Linked DNA regions of Homo sapiens. The protein of the gene in region 1 interacts with the protein of each later gene in a biochemical or structural test. Each region holds a gene or a part of one and is shown in the gene's direction. Other genes may lie near its edges.

Evidence for each region.
Region 2: the proteins of MAGI2 (region 1) and CCDC134 interact in a test that uses a peptide from one of them, tested with the Homo sapiens proteins (one large-scale study listed by IntAct).
Region 3: the proteins of MAGI2 (region 1) and CAPN6 interact in a test that uses a peptide from one of them, tested with the Homo sapiens proteins (one large-scale study listed by IntAct).
Region 4: the proteins of MAGI2 (region 1) and ATP2B1 interact in a test that uses a peptide from one of them, tested with the Homo sapiens proteins (one large-scale study listed by IntAct).

Annotation. Positions count from the first base shown.
Region 1 is NC_000007.14:78,016,555-78,019,611, reverse strand, and holds the end of MAGI2 (membrane-associated guanylate kinase, WW and PDZ domain-containing protein 2), read left to right. Parts: coding exon 1-297; 3' UTR 298-2,557; downstream 2,558-3,057. UniProt on the Homo sapiens protein: Seems to act as a scaffold molecule at synaptic junctions by assembling neurotransmitter receptors and cell adhesion proteins. Plays a role in nerve growth factor (NGF)-induced recruitment of RAPGEF2 to late endosomes and neurite outgrowth.
Region 2 is NC_000022.11:41,799,468-41,803,478, forward strand, and holds the start of CCDC134 (coiled-coil domain-containing protein 134 isoform 1 precursor), read left to right. Parts: upstream 1-1,211; 5' UTR 1,212-1,299; intron 1,300-1,531; exon of another isoform or gene 1,532-1,609; intron 1,610-4,011. UniProt on the Homo sapiens protein: Molecular adapter required to prevent protein hyperglycosylation of HSP90B1: during translation, associates with nascent HSP90B1 and the STT3A catalytic component of the OST-A complex and tethers them to a specialized translocon that forms a microenvironment for HSP90B1 folding.
Region 3 is NC_000023.11:111,253,484-111,256,983, reverse strand, and holds part of CAPN6 (calpain-6), read left to right. Parts: intron 1-2,580; coding exon 2,581-2,712; intron 2,713-3,500. UniProt on the Homo sapiens protein: Microtubule-stabilizing protein that may be involved in the regulation of microtubule dynamics and cytoskeletal organization. May act as a regulator of RAC1 activity through interaction with ARHGEF2 to control lamellipodial formation and cell mobility.
Region 4 is NC_000012.12:89,604,339-89,607,838, reverse strand, and holds part of ATP2B1 (plasma membrane calcium-transporting ATPase 1), read left to right. Parts: intron 1-3,492; coding exon 3,493-3,500. UniProt on the Homo sapiens protein: Catalyzes the hydrolysis of ATP coupled with the transport of calcium from the cytoplasm to the extracellular space thereby maintaining intracellular calcium homeostasis.

The DNA of each region.
Region 1 (3,057 bases):
GCGGACGCGGCGCGGGCGGGCGGGAAGGAGGCGCCCCGTGCGGCGGCGGGCTCCGAGCTCTGCCGGCGCGAAGGCCCGGGGGCTGCGCCGGCGTTTGCCGGCCCGGGCGGCGGCGGCAGCGGCGCGCTGGAGGCCGAGGGCAGGGCGGGTGCGCGCGCGGGTCCCCGGCCGGGCCCGCGACCCCCGGGGGGCGCCCCGGCGCGCAAGGCCGCCGTCGCGCCGGGGCCCTGGAAGGTGCCGGGTTCTGACAAGCTGCCCAGCGTCCTCAAACCCGGCGCCTCGGCCGCCAGCAGATGAGCCGCGCGGCCACGGCCAACCCGCCCGCCCCGGCGCAGGCAGTTCTTCTTAGGTTCCGTCTCACGGCGTTTTAATTTATTTTCACTGTCACACGCATAGATCCACGAGGCACCAAGGCCTGGGAGCATCGACGTGAAGTCCCACGTGTCCGGTGTGCTTGGGCGGCATCGCATCAACGCGCAGACCTAAACTGATCCTAAAGCCCCCGGTTCCCTTGTGGGGGCTTTGGCAGCTATGGAAGAACCAAAATAACGTGAAGAACATCACAGAGAGACAGTGCAGTGTAGCTTTAGTTTAAGAAAAAAAAATATTCCTCCCCACTGCATGAAGGACTTGGATGTCATCCAAACTTTATATCAAGAAACAGGACAAAGTTAAGAGCAATCACAAACTGGAATATCGCCTTAAAAATCAAACTGCACGGAGCAAGCTGAAACTGAGACAAGATTATATCTTTTAATTGATCTAAAGCGTTGTAAATAAATTGTTCTCGACATATCTAGACAGGGGTTAAAGGGTTTCTTTGACACATTCGGAACCGTTCACCCATGACATGTTTCCATGGCTCACCCTTGGCATCCATCCTCGGTGTTAGCAGCAGCGTTCCCTGCCTCCTGCAGGATGACTTAGAAATCTAGTGAGTTTCTTGGTGTGATGCCATTTTTATTGCCCTTTCTGTGATCAAATCATATTTCTGTACATTTTCAGTGGTAGAAAAAAAAGGTTTTAAAAATTGTATCCTAGGGAACAGTTTGCCATAAGTCAGAATTTTGCAGTTTAGCTCATAGATCTTAATTGGTTTTTCTCTAAAATATGAATTTTATAATTGAAGGACCACAATTTGTTTAATCAAGATAGGCAACGCTGCAGTTCCTTTATGAAGAGGCTTTTCTGTCGTCCCAGGCTAGCAGAGATGGATAGCTTCTTTGTCAGCAATGTGATTTCACTTATTTTATTGTCTTATTTTAAACCCTGTCTCCATGACTTCATTTGCACTTTGACAGAGCAGAGGCAGAGTATTTGTCTTATATTTCTCAGATTATAATATTAAAAAATTACAATCAATTTATTTTCATTAAAGAACGTGAGTCTTTTTAGCATTCCTTTCTGCTTATCCTTCTTTCCTTACCCTTTGTCCTTTTGTTTCCATTAGTTTTCTTTCGTCTTGTATTCCTTGCCACTTTATTTTGTTAGCAACTTCTAGATGTTTATCTTCATGGATCTATGATTGACCTCCTAGTAAAATTCTAAGTCTTGCCTTTCTTCCCTGCTGTTTTAGCATTTCTTTGTAAAATGTTAGCTTCAATTAATTAGCCATTGGTACTTACTGTAGCTACACATATTAAAAGGCAAAGTGTTTCTGAAGGCAATTTCTTTTTAATATGCCCGAATGAATGAGGCTTCATCCTTTCCATATTCTTACTCTTTACAGGAGTTCAAATGCAAATAAGCTCCACCTCCCTGCACTTGTAGTCTAAAAAGTAAAAGGGGCGATCAGGTCCATCTCAAAGGTCACACGTAATAGCCTCCCTGGGCTGATCATTCCCTCTCCTTGTAATTGCAGTATCCTGAGTAGCAGTTTAATTTTCATCAAACATCGGAGTAGTTTAGTTGTTTGACAGGAGGAGAATAAGGCTGAAAGCCTCAAGTGAAGGATCTTGCAGCTTGTAAAAGCAATTTCCAAAAATGAAACCCATTCATCGTAAACAAAAGCACAAACACTTGTAGCAGTTTATAATGCTTTTGGTTTAATCTCAATTAGTCTTTCTCCCCTGGACTAGAAATCCAGTATAGTTTGCCATTAATTTATTGAATCTGGTTTTGGACAATGCTTCTGTAGTGTAGCTGCACGTCCTGGTACTGTATCCTCTGACTTTATTTTCCATGTATTACAAAAGGAAAAAAAAATTGAGATTACACTGGCATAAACTCTAGTTTGCACAGTTCACAGCTACTACTTGTGCAGTAATTGCTTTATGCGGCTGTAATCCATAACCTGTGAAGACAGCACATCATCTAAATCCCATTCCAAATAATATTTGTGTAGTGTTAGCTGTGAATTTACCCTGTACAGCTGTATCTCTATAAATATAATTCCATGTATTAATAGTCACAGAAAGACTGTAAGTGAGCAACTATTTTTATGAAACGTACCACTATGGATAAATTAACTTTTACAGAAATCTTGTTTACTGTATGATATTCTAAAACACTGTCAAATAAAATATATATCCAAAAATCTTTTCTTTTTCCAACTATATAGGCTGTGTGTTAATTTGAAATAGATTATTACTGGGGGTTAACTTAGTTTTTCAAAACTGCAGTTTTCATCGACTTTTTTTATTTTTGGAAGTATAAGTTTTAATGCCCCAAATAGGACTTTTTTGAAACTTGAATCTAAAAGCAGTGGCATTACATGGGAAAGATCATTGGCTTTTTTGGCCTAAGTAAACAGTTTTCTCAGTCTTGTTGATATTTGCTTGTCAGGTTACTACATCATTCATGAATTGGCTGTATATTTCTGTTGCTTGCTACATTGATCGATACTTTACCTTTTTTCAAAAAGGATTTAAAGTATCCATCTGTAATAAATTCCATCACATTTTTTCCTTTTAATTCTGAAATTTTCTCATGCAAAATCCCAAGGAGTTCATGCAGAAGCCAACATAGCAAGCAGCAGTGAACTGGTCCAAAATGAATGGTTGAATATAGCTTTTGTCATGTATTGCGATGCCTGTGGTAGGAAGGGAGAGTTCTGCT
Region 2 (4,011 bases), on another chromosome or scaffold:
TCTCCAAAAACACTGTACTACCTTGTCTACCAGGAGCTGGTTTCTCAGCCAGTTGGATAAGGGATTGTTTCAGCAAGGAGACTGATGGCCTCCTCAGGGAAGGAGGGACGGGACAGGATTTGTTCTTGTAACAGCATTCAAGGAGTCAGCTGGGTGCCTCAGCTGTACTCAGAGAACACCAGTCAGGCCATCCTGGGGCTGGCAGGGCAGAGAAAGGCCTAGGGGTTGGGGCTGCTGCGATTCAACAGCTCCCAGAGGCACTTGACCTGCTCCCTCGCCTCACGTGGAGGTGGATAGAGGTAAACTTTCCAGGCAAGGAGGGTCAAATTCTCAGCTTTCCTATCAGAACGAAACTGTCCCAGCCTCAGCCCTTGTCTGGCTAAAGTAGGTCACCTCTGTCCCTTCCCGTACAGCCGTCATCAGAACTGGTGTTTATGCACCCTCGTGGGTAGATCCTGGGAATGCATGTCCAGCTTGGTCCCCGGCATGAGGTCTGCGCTCGACAGTGCCTGCCCTGCGCCTGTTCTGGGGAGCTCAGCCCAGACCGGGCCTCCAGCTCCCTTCCCGCCCGGCAGGGGCCCCGGGCCCGGAGATGGCCACGCCACGCTGCCTTCTCGGGTCTGACTGTCCTGATCCTGCGCAAAAGTGGGGCTGCACTCGGCCTAACGAACGGACGAGGAAGCCCCCGCCGCACTTGGCTTATTAGTTGGTGGACCGGAGGGGCAAGGAGGGGATGCCCGAATCCTGCACTGAGTCTCTGAGGTCCTTAAAGAAGAACAAAAGTGCTAGTCACCGCCCACTAAACTCACGTTGCGATCTAAAGTTTAAAAACTCGGCCACAGACGACGACACAGTTTCAGGGAGGGCGCGCAGAAGGTCGCCCGGCCGACAGGAGCTGGGACCCCAGTTTGCTGATTCACGCCTTAAATTGGGCACAGACCCCACCCACAGATTTAACTTCCTCCAACACAAGCTAAATCCAGGGCCACGTACCCAGGGCCCGCAGGAGGGACAGGACGAGGATGGTGCCCACAGCGCGCTGGAGGCACGCCAGAGCCTGGAGGGGCAGGCAGGGGCGGTGGAGCGGGGCCGGAAGTGAGGCTAGCGGAGCCCCGCAGTGGCGGCTCGCGCTCATTGGCCGGGAGCAGCGCGGTGGGCGGGACGGAGCTCGGCGGTCTGCGCTCGGTTGCTAGCCGTTTGCTCCCGCTTTCAGTTGCTTTGCTGTTAGCCTGTTGGACCTTCGAGCCTAGCTGCTCGCACAGGACTCGGCCACCTGCCCTTCCTGCACCGACTGGCCAGGTAGGTGGCTGTAGGGGCCGCGGGCTGCAGGTTCCCGGGAAGGATAATGAGAGAACCGAGGGCCTCGAACCGGCTGCAGGTGGTGGGGAGGGAGTTTCGTGGACCTGGACGCCTCTGTTCCTTGAGAAGGCTCGCTCCCTCCTCCGGGAGCTCCGAAGGCTCGGGGTCAACCACCTGGGCCCCCGACCCCGGTAGCTGGCTCAAGGCCCGCCACTACCTGGTACCTCTGCAGGAGTTCAGAGCCTCATGCTGAGCCAGGAGGAGCTCCGGGTGACGCATACGGCAGGATCGGGATTGAGAGGCTGAAAAAGTGAGTTTAACAGTAGAGAAAGCAGGACCTGTCCCGCAGGCTGCTGTTCTGGCTTTTCTTTCCCACTACCTGCTTCAGTCATTGCCAGCTGTCTGGTATTCTCCTTGGCCCCTAAAGTTTTGCCCTAGCCTGGTTCTGGTTCCCTTGAGTTTGGAGCAGGAGGTGGAATGTGGAGGGTCCTGGGTGAACTTGGACTATTCCTTCTCTAGGTTTCACTTATCTCGTCTGCTTGGGGGTAGGGGGTTCTCCGGATGATCTCTGCAGCCCCTCACTGTCTGTAACTGAGCATCTCTCCCCTGGGGCAGGTGTCCTGGTAGTTCAGTAGCCAGCTCTGATCTCAGGTAGCCTGTGCTCATTTACAAAGAGTCAGAAGACAGAGCACTGGACTTAGAGCCAAACAGACACTTGGTTCAGCCTGGGAATAGCTGTGTGACTTTGGGCAGTCACCTCATTTTTCTGTGCCTTGATTTCACATTGGTAACATTGGGGAGTTGTAATCTGAGTGTGAGACCTCTCCTGACCACTTTATGTAATCTTGTACCTGACCGACACCCTCTCATCCCTCTGTGCTTATTTTACAAGTTTATTGATCAACTCTTATCCCTACTAGAGACAAGTACCATGAGTGCAGAGATTTTTGCTTATTTATTGCTGTATTCCCGCCTCTAGAACAGTGCCTAGAGTGTGGTAGGTACTGTCAACCTAAATAGCAGAGTGAGAGACTCTAAAAAAATGATGTTTACTTGGGAATAGACATTGTAGTGACAATATGTGTGCCATAGTAACCTGTGTACGTATTTGGGGAGGTAAAGGAAGACAAAGGTTTTGAAAAGGAAAAATGAGGATTACATGATTATTTTGAGATAGTTATCCTTGGCTACAAGGATGAATAGCAAGAGTGGTGCTAGTCTGAGGTTGGACAGGCAGTTGCAGGGCAGATGTCCTCACAGAAAGATTTTTCTGTGTAAGTTTGCAGTGGCCTTTGTGCAGGGTTGTGGTTTTTGCATTTTTTGTGATCTTGTTATCAGTCATTTGTGCATAAGAACCCTCTTTTCACAACCTTCCTCGGTTTTATTTGTCAGAGTTGTTGTTCTTGTTTTTTCCCATTGGAGAATCATGCTTTAAATTTGTCAGAGTTTTTAACACAAACGACTCTGTTTTGATTCTAACAACTTTCATATTTCCCCCTTTTGGTCAAGATCTTTCTCCAAAAACTTTACTGATCAGTCATCCTGTAGTTAGGTCCCTCAGTGCTGGGACGGACCTATCTTGGGTTGTTGGTCTCTTGCCATGTTGGAGACTAGGAGTCTCCAGTTGGAGACTGGTGACTAGGAGTCAGTGTCAAAACCCTTGTAGTGGTTGGGAGCAGGGGCTCACGTCTGTAATCCCAGTACTTTGGGAGGTCAAGGAGGGAGTATCACTTGAGTCCAGAAGTTCAAGACCAGCCTGGGCAACCGCCAAGGCGGGCGGATCACCTGAGGTTGAGAGTTCGAGACCAGCCTGACCAACATGAAGAAACCCGTCTCTACTAAAATACAAAAATATATATAAATAACATCCGGGCGCGGTGGCTCACACCTGTAATCCCAGCGCTTTGGGAGGCCGAGGCAGGCGGATCATGAGGTGAGGAGATCGAGACCATCCTGGCTAACACGGTGAAACCCCATCTCAACTAAAAATACAAAAAATTAGCCGGGCGTGGTGGCAGGTGCCTGTAGTCCCAGCTACTTGGGAGGCTGAGGCAGGAGAATGGCGTGAACCCAGGAGGCAGAGCTTGCAGTGAACCGAGATCGCACCACTGCACTCCAGCCTGGGCGACAGAGCAAGACTCTGTCTCAAAAAAATAAAAAATAAAAAAATAAAAAATAAATAAAATAAAATACAAAAATTAGCCGGGCGTGGTGGCACATGCCTGTAATCCCAGCTACTAGGGAGGCTGAGGCAGGAGAATCGCTTGAACCTGGGAAGTGGAGGTTGCGGTGAGCCGAGATCGCACCATTGCACTCCAGCCTGGGCAACAAGAGCGAAACTCCGTCTCAAAAAAAAAAAGTTATCTGGGCATTGGTTGGGGAGTGTGCGGGAGTCAGTTGGGTAGAGGATCACTTAAGCCCAGGAGTTTCAGGTTATAGGGAGCTATGATTGTACCGCTGCACTCCAGCGTGGGTGACAGAGCGAGACCCTGCCTCAAAAAACCCCAAATACCTTTTAGCCACATTTGAGCAGCAAGGGAGGTTTGGAAGGAGTGGCTCTCAAGGTATGTCTACCTGGAGTTCATTGTTAAGTTCAATTTTGGCTGTTCCATAGGCATTTGCTGTCATTGCAAACTTCTGGGCCAGCATTATTCTGTCAGGAGTGATACTTCAACAAAAATTTAAAAAGTAATAGGTATAAAGTTTAAAAAG
Region 3 (3,500 bases), on another chromosome or scaffold:
AGTTTTGACATTCTATGACTGTTAACTTGTCATGTTTTAAATCTATTGTTAAATAGCCATCACGTATGAAAAGGGGTAAAGTATAACTGGAGAATGGGCCAGTTTATAAGAGGAAATGGAATGTTGTGGGGGGGGGGGTCCCAAATTTACATTCTCTCATGAATTTCACACAGCTTTTAATATATATATTATATGTACATACATGTATATACATAGACACATATAATATATAATAATCATATCCATCTTGGGTCAAGAAGAGAATAATTACCCCATTCCTCAATTTGAATTGTTTATATGTCTTTTTGCTCACTTATGTGACCCTTTATGTCTTCAATAGAAGTTGACATGCCAAAAGTGTTGGCTAAGCCTAGATACCTACTGTGAAATGAAAATTTTATGGAAATTCAAGACACCATAATGTATCTCCAACCACTAATAACTCTACATAAAATTAGCAAATAATTTGCCTTATTAATCTAAAAGCACACTTTTTCATATATCAGTGTTCACTTTATTGTTTTTCCATGTTAGGAAACTATGATATGTATTATCTAGGTCAAATAAATCATTATTTTTTTTTTGGAACGAAGTTTCTCTCTTGTTGCCCAGGCTGGAGCGCAATGGTGTGATCTCGGCTCACTGCAACCTCTGCCTCCCGGGTTCAAGCGATTCTCCTGCCTCAGCCTCCTGAGTAGCTGAGATTACAGGCGCCTGCCACCACGCCTGGCTAATTTTTGTATATTTAGAAGAGATGGGGTTTCACCATGTTGACCAGGCTGGTCTTGAACTTCTGACCTCAGGTGATCCACCTGCCTCGGCCTCCCAAAGTGCTGGGATTACAGGCGAGAGCCACCACACCTGGCCAGAAATTATTTTATACTTTGACATCTTGCTCAAAATAAAATGAAAACACCTGACCTGGGGAGGAAAAACTGTGCTTAGTTTCATTTTAGAAAAGGCCAAAAAAATGAGAAGAAAAAGAACATCAGGGTTTGACTTACCCAACATACCTGCTCTATGTTCAACAAGTGAAAACAAAGGCAGTTTGCAGCCCATAAAAAATATTTTTTAAGATAGAAAATTCTCCTAAAACAAAAAGTAGTTGTGAACTACCAGGCATGCATCTAAAAAAAAAGACCTGAGAATCCAAAGCTGACAACCTATCTAGCCATCTCCTTTTGGCAGAGGGATGCCCAGTTAATCTCCAGCTTGGACTTGTCTTTGCCCAGAATGCCTGCCTATTTCTTTCCAGAGTTATTTTGGCTTTTAAAGAATATATGGAATGTTTCATTCTGTAGACCAGACCCTTCGTCAAGGAGAATTATGGCCATTAAAAAAAGAGGTTTGAGGACCAGAAAAATATAGCTGTCTCTAATACTTTTTAAAAGGATATATGTCTAGATTCCATTTGAGACAAGGATTTATTTCTGCTGCGTAAGCAGAATGTCAAGGTACCGGCCAATGGCCTCCTCGTGAAGCTTTCTCCATCTAGTCAAGAATGCATTGGTATTTCCTGCCTTTGAACTCTTCAAATGCTGATACTCTGAGTCACCCAATTATGTCTTCAACTATGTAGTGTCATGTATGCCACAATGCCTTTGCCCATGCCTTTCTCTCTACCTGTTATGCCACCGTACCCCTCTCTTGTCCAACTGCCTAATTCTAGTCAACTCCAGTGTTAACAACACTATGAATCCTATTCTGACTGTGATCAGGAGAATTATGGGGATTCTTCCTTTAGACATGAATTATGCTTTGAAAATGACTCTACTGTGCCCTATCGCTTTGTGTTATAATTGTATCATTTAGGTATCATTTTCCTACTCCCAGTGGGAAAGGCACAGTTAATATGTTGGGGGGAAGATACACACATACATTCCAAACAAATACTGCCCCCACTCTGCCCAGATCCCCTCAGGACCTTCACTGGGAAGAGTGTCGGTTGAAGTGTTCCTGTGAGTGGTTTATTACCACTTGCTATTAATGCTGCTGTCATCTATATTCATCCACAAATGTAGAAAAATCTGGTTGCTATGGAGACCACTGTTGCTTTTGCTTTATGTTAGAAAAGGGCTTCCTATAAGGTCTCCTAACTGGTTTTCCTAGAGAAGGAGATGAATTAATGTTAACCTTCATTAGACCTTGTCTCTTTAATACAATCTCCCTTCCAAGCACAGGTGCTTCAGAAAATCTCATCCTGGCAAAATAGGATCAGAATGTAATGTACTAATTCCTAGTTATTATTTTTTTGGAAAGTTCACTGCTGTGGTGAAAACTCTCCCAAACCCCAATGATAGCTATGTCTAAGAGCCCTCACCACCGCATGGCACCCAATCTCATGACACCCTCTCCTTTCATTTCTCCTGCCACTTCCAAACATGGGGCTAGATGATCAACTGTTTTTTGGTTTTCCTTATAATCCCCTCAGCCTTCCCTTCATCCCATCTATGGAAATCCTACTTATTTTTCAACCCTAACCTTATCTCCTCTATGAAGGCTGTCCTGCCTAGTTCAGCTCACAGTGACTCTTGAGAAACTCTTCCCAGACTCTCATATAACCAATTATTGTATTCATAGGACATCTGTGATGACCCCCATCTGATTGTGGGCAACATTAGCAACCACCAGCTGACCCAAGGGAGACTGGGGCACAAGCCAATGGTTTCTGCATTTTCCTGTTTGGCTGTTCAGGAGTCTCATTGGACAAAGGTATTATCCCTCCTGTGGGACCTCATTCAGTTTCCACTTTCTTGTCTTCTTTAATAACTTTAGGAAAAAAATCAGCGCATAACTTCCTTAGATTGTTGTATTTCTTGAAAGCAGAGATATTAACTAGGCGACTTCCCTCCATTTCATTATAAGAAGTTTTGCAAACACAGAAAAGTTGAAATAATTTTATAGTGAACACTCATATACCCACCTAGATTCTACCATTAACATTTTACTCTACTTGCTTTGTCATATATGCTCACTGATCTTTGGTTATCATTTGCCGTGCATTGACTCAGTATCTCTGCATATTATGTTATCTGTACCTATTGGGGTATAAAGTCAGTAGAAGCCAGGAAGTCAATAATACATATTAATAACAAAAAAGGTGAGAAATACAGAAGTAGGACTTGAAAAGTTCTAATAAATTATTAATAGTACAAAAATTCCTTTAGCATTCAGGTAGAGGTCAAGGCAATGAAGTGTTAACTTGACTTGGGACAAAGTTAAAACATTTTCCTCAAAAAATAATTTTAGAATATTAATGTGTAGCTGTTATACAAAAAAAATTCCTAAACATGATTTTATTCAAAATGCAAATGAAATCCATATTTAATATAATTGATATAAAATCTCTAGAATGGATATTTAAAAAGCAAACTACAATGGGCCTTGATTTTGATTGGTTTTGCTCTTTAGAATGCCTTGCATTTTAAACATGCAATCATGAATATGTTTATATAGTCCGCTTCTCAACATCTAGTTTATAGATTATTTGTGGAAAGCAT
Region 4 (3,500 bases), on another chromosome or scaffold:
CGGGACAAAAAATATGGATGGTTGCATCTGTAGTGAACATGTGCAGACTTTTTCTTGTCATGATTCCCTAAATAATATAGTGTAACAATTATCTACATAGCAAGTTTTGGTCGAAGGAGAGAATCCTTGTCACATGAAATTATTCTTGCCAAAAATTAGTTAACCATGTATAGAGATACTGCTGTCATCAAAGACTGAATCTCATGGTGTAATCCAATAATCAAATACATCTATGGTAGTAAAACCTAAGGTAATTAAAATACTTTTATTTAAATTTTATTTGGATTAATGCGGGACTCCAAATATTGAGACTGTGTTCAGTATTCCAGTCCCGGAACATTAGAAGTGAAGAGTTGCTGTCTCCTAAAAATTCACAGCACATGGAAATAATTACAGGACAGTGACAAGTGTCTCAGGCAGAAGTCCTTGACTCTGCCTGTAGAGACTGGGAAGGGTTTTCTGGAAGAGGTGCCAGTTTAGCTGAGGGAAGGAGAGGAACCAAGAGGCCCTCATTCATCAGCGAATTATGTACAAGTTTTTCAATCTAACTAGAAGAGGTTGCGGTGCTGTAATGAGATACGAAGCTAGAAGAATTCACAGGGGGCCACATTAAAAAGGCCTTGAATGCCATGATAAGGAATTTTTTTTCTCTTATCCTGTAGATGAACATTTGCCAAGCCTACTTCTGATGATGTAAGTTTAGAGACACACTATGCGATATCATATGACTCCTAGAAGCTCATTTTTAAAAAGCAGTTTAACGTTTTGTGATTGAAAGTTTTCCAGACTTGTTTCATCATAGAACTAGTTTTTATTTGAATACCAATTAACACCATAGAGTTACTTTTAGAAATGTTAAGGATTTTGAGCAAGGGAATGGTGAGATTTGCATTTGTATAATATGGGTATGATGAGAATCAAGAAATCCCATTGAGTTTAAGTGTGTTAAATATATGGGACATTGGCCAGGCATGGTGGCTCACACCTGTAATCCCAGCACTTTGGGAGGCCGAGGCGGGTGGATCTCTTGAGGTCAGGAATTCAAGACCAGTCTCGCCAACATGGTATATTAAAATCCTGTCTCTACTAAAAATACAAAATAGTGGGTGTGGTGATGTGTGACTGTAATCTTAGCTACTCCGGAGGCTGAGGCAGGAGAATGGCGTGAACCCGGAAGGCAGAGCTTGCAGTGAGCTGAGATCGCACCACTGCACTCCAGCCTGGGCAACAGAGCGAGACTCTATCTCAAAAAAAAAAAAAAAAAAAGTGGGACATTAAAAGTAAAATATTCACATTGGGAGCTGGAGACTAAGATTCTAAAATAAGATTGTTTCTTCATTGAGTATTTTGAGAAAGGTTTCATCTGAACTTCATGTTTATCAAAACAATGTATGCGTAGCATTTAAAAGGTCAAGTAGTTCTATAAGACTTAATAGCAAGTTCCCTGCCACATACCAAATTTTTGGCTCCCAAAGGAAACTGTTTTAGCTGCTTCTTTTACTTAGTTATGTACCTTTATATCTCTGAATCACATAATTCTGGTGCTTTTTGATTTTTTTAATATAAGGCTTTAACTACTGACTTTCATTAATGAAGGTGAGGACTTAGTGCTTTCACAAGCATATAGACCACATTCACCGCATATACCTTCATGCTCACTACCTATCCCATCATCTGCCAGCAGAGTTATATCATAATTTAGATTTGATCAATATTCAGTCCTTACTGTGACTTACTGTGACTGTAAATGCTGTTTCAACCTGATCTGTGTGGTCTACTGTAATTACTTTTCCTTCCTTACACAGCTTTTTATGTTCCCTATAATTTGTTGTCTTTTACTTGCTTTCTTTTAATTTTTATTTGGTTTGTTTGAATTTTTTTGGCTTAGTTTTTCTATGTACTTAACTAATTCATCCCCAAATTCTCTGTTTCATACATCAGAGACCTTTAGCACTCTTACCAATTTTAGTGTCTAAGAGATACGTCTCTCAGCATCTTTCAACATGCTTTAATCTGCACTCGCTGTTTGCTAGCCTTGCTGCACAGCTGTCTTCTTGGTCTCCATACCTGAGGATTTTCTTTATTCTCCTTTGTGTTGGATCTTGTACTTCATGAATTCAGTGGCATCATCTTCTTTGGTTTATTCCCTTATCTGGTGGAGTCATCTTCTCCAGCTGCTTCCTGAGAAAGGGTTTGTCTTTGTCCATTTTGTATTGTGATAACAGAATATCTAAGACTTAATAATTCATGAACAATAAAAGTTTATTTGACTTGAGGTTCTGGAAGTGAGTAAATCCAAGAGCCAGGGTGCCAGCATCTGGTGAGGACCTTCATGCTGTGTCATGTCATGGGAGAAGGGCAAGAGAACACCGCAAGTGAGCACAAAAGCAAGAGGGGGTCAAACTCACCTTTATAATGATGTCACTCTTGATAATGAAACCACTCCCAAAATAATGATATTAATCCATACATGAGGGCAGAGCCTTCATCATATCACCTCTGAGTTTCCATGTCTGCACTTGGTTGATTAGAGATTATGTTTCCAACACATGAATTTGGGGAACACTTTCAGCTCGTGGCAAGGTTCGTGAGGTTAAGCTTTTTGATAATTTTTTAGTGAATCCTACTCCCTTCTAATTACTGCCTTGTCTCTCTGCAAAGATAACCAGTATCCTGAAGATTATTCCTTTTGCCTGTTTTTGAACTTTGTACAGAAGAGTCATACATTATGTGTTGAGTTCATCTTCTTTATTCAGCATTATGTTTGTCAGATCATTTATGTTAATATAGTTGTAGTTCACTCATTTTATTAATCCACAATTTATTAATTACCCCATTCTCCTGTTGATGACATTGTTATTAGTTTGAAGCTTCTAAATGCGTCTTCAGTAGACTTTCAAGAGATCTTCCTTTTTTTATTCCTACCTTCACCCCTACTTCCAGTGCCACGTAAATCTGCCAAGTCTGGAGCTGACAGGGGGGTTCTGTTGTTGGGGGGAAAGGGGGCTACTTCTACTTTCTCTACACTTGGATTAGGATTCAGCTTTCTTGTGTCTGCTGAGTTACTTACCATTTGGCTGTCTGCTTTCTAGCCTCTAAGGTTTTATGGGTTTTTTGTTTGTTTGTTTGTTTTTTGGTAGAATCTCCTTTTCCTCTAACTTTGTCTTCATAGAGTTTGTTTGCTTTTTATTAACAGATACCTTTTTGTGTGGCTTTTGGAAGGAACTTGGGTAATGTCTTTGTTCATTCCTCCATTTTTAACCCAACTTGAACCTTATTTTTAATACTTCATTCTTTGTTTGATTTCTGCTAAACCAGAATGTCTTTCCTAGTAATATCTTAGAATAACTCTGTTACCTTCTTTTAGTGTAAATTTAAGTAATATTTATTAGGTATAATGGTAAACTTTTTGTTTATTAAGTGTGTATTTTTTGACTATTTGAAAGTTATACTTAAAACATTTAGTCTAATTCACAAAATTTTTTTTAACAGGGTATTGC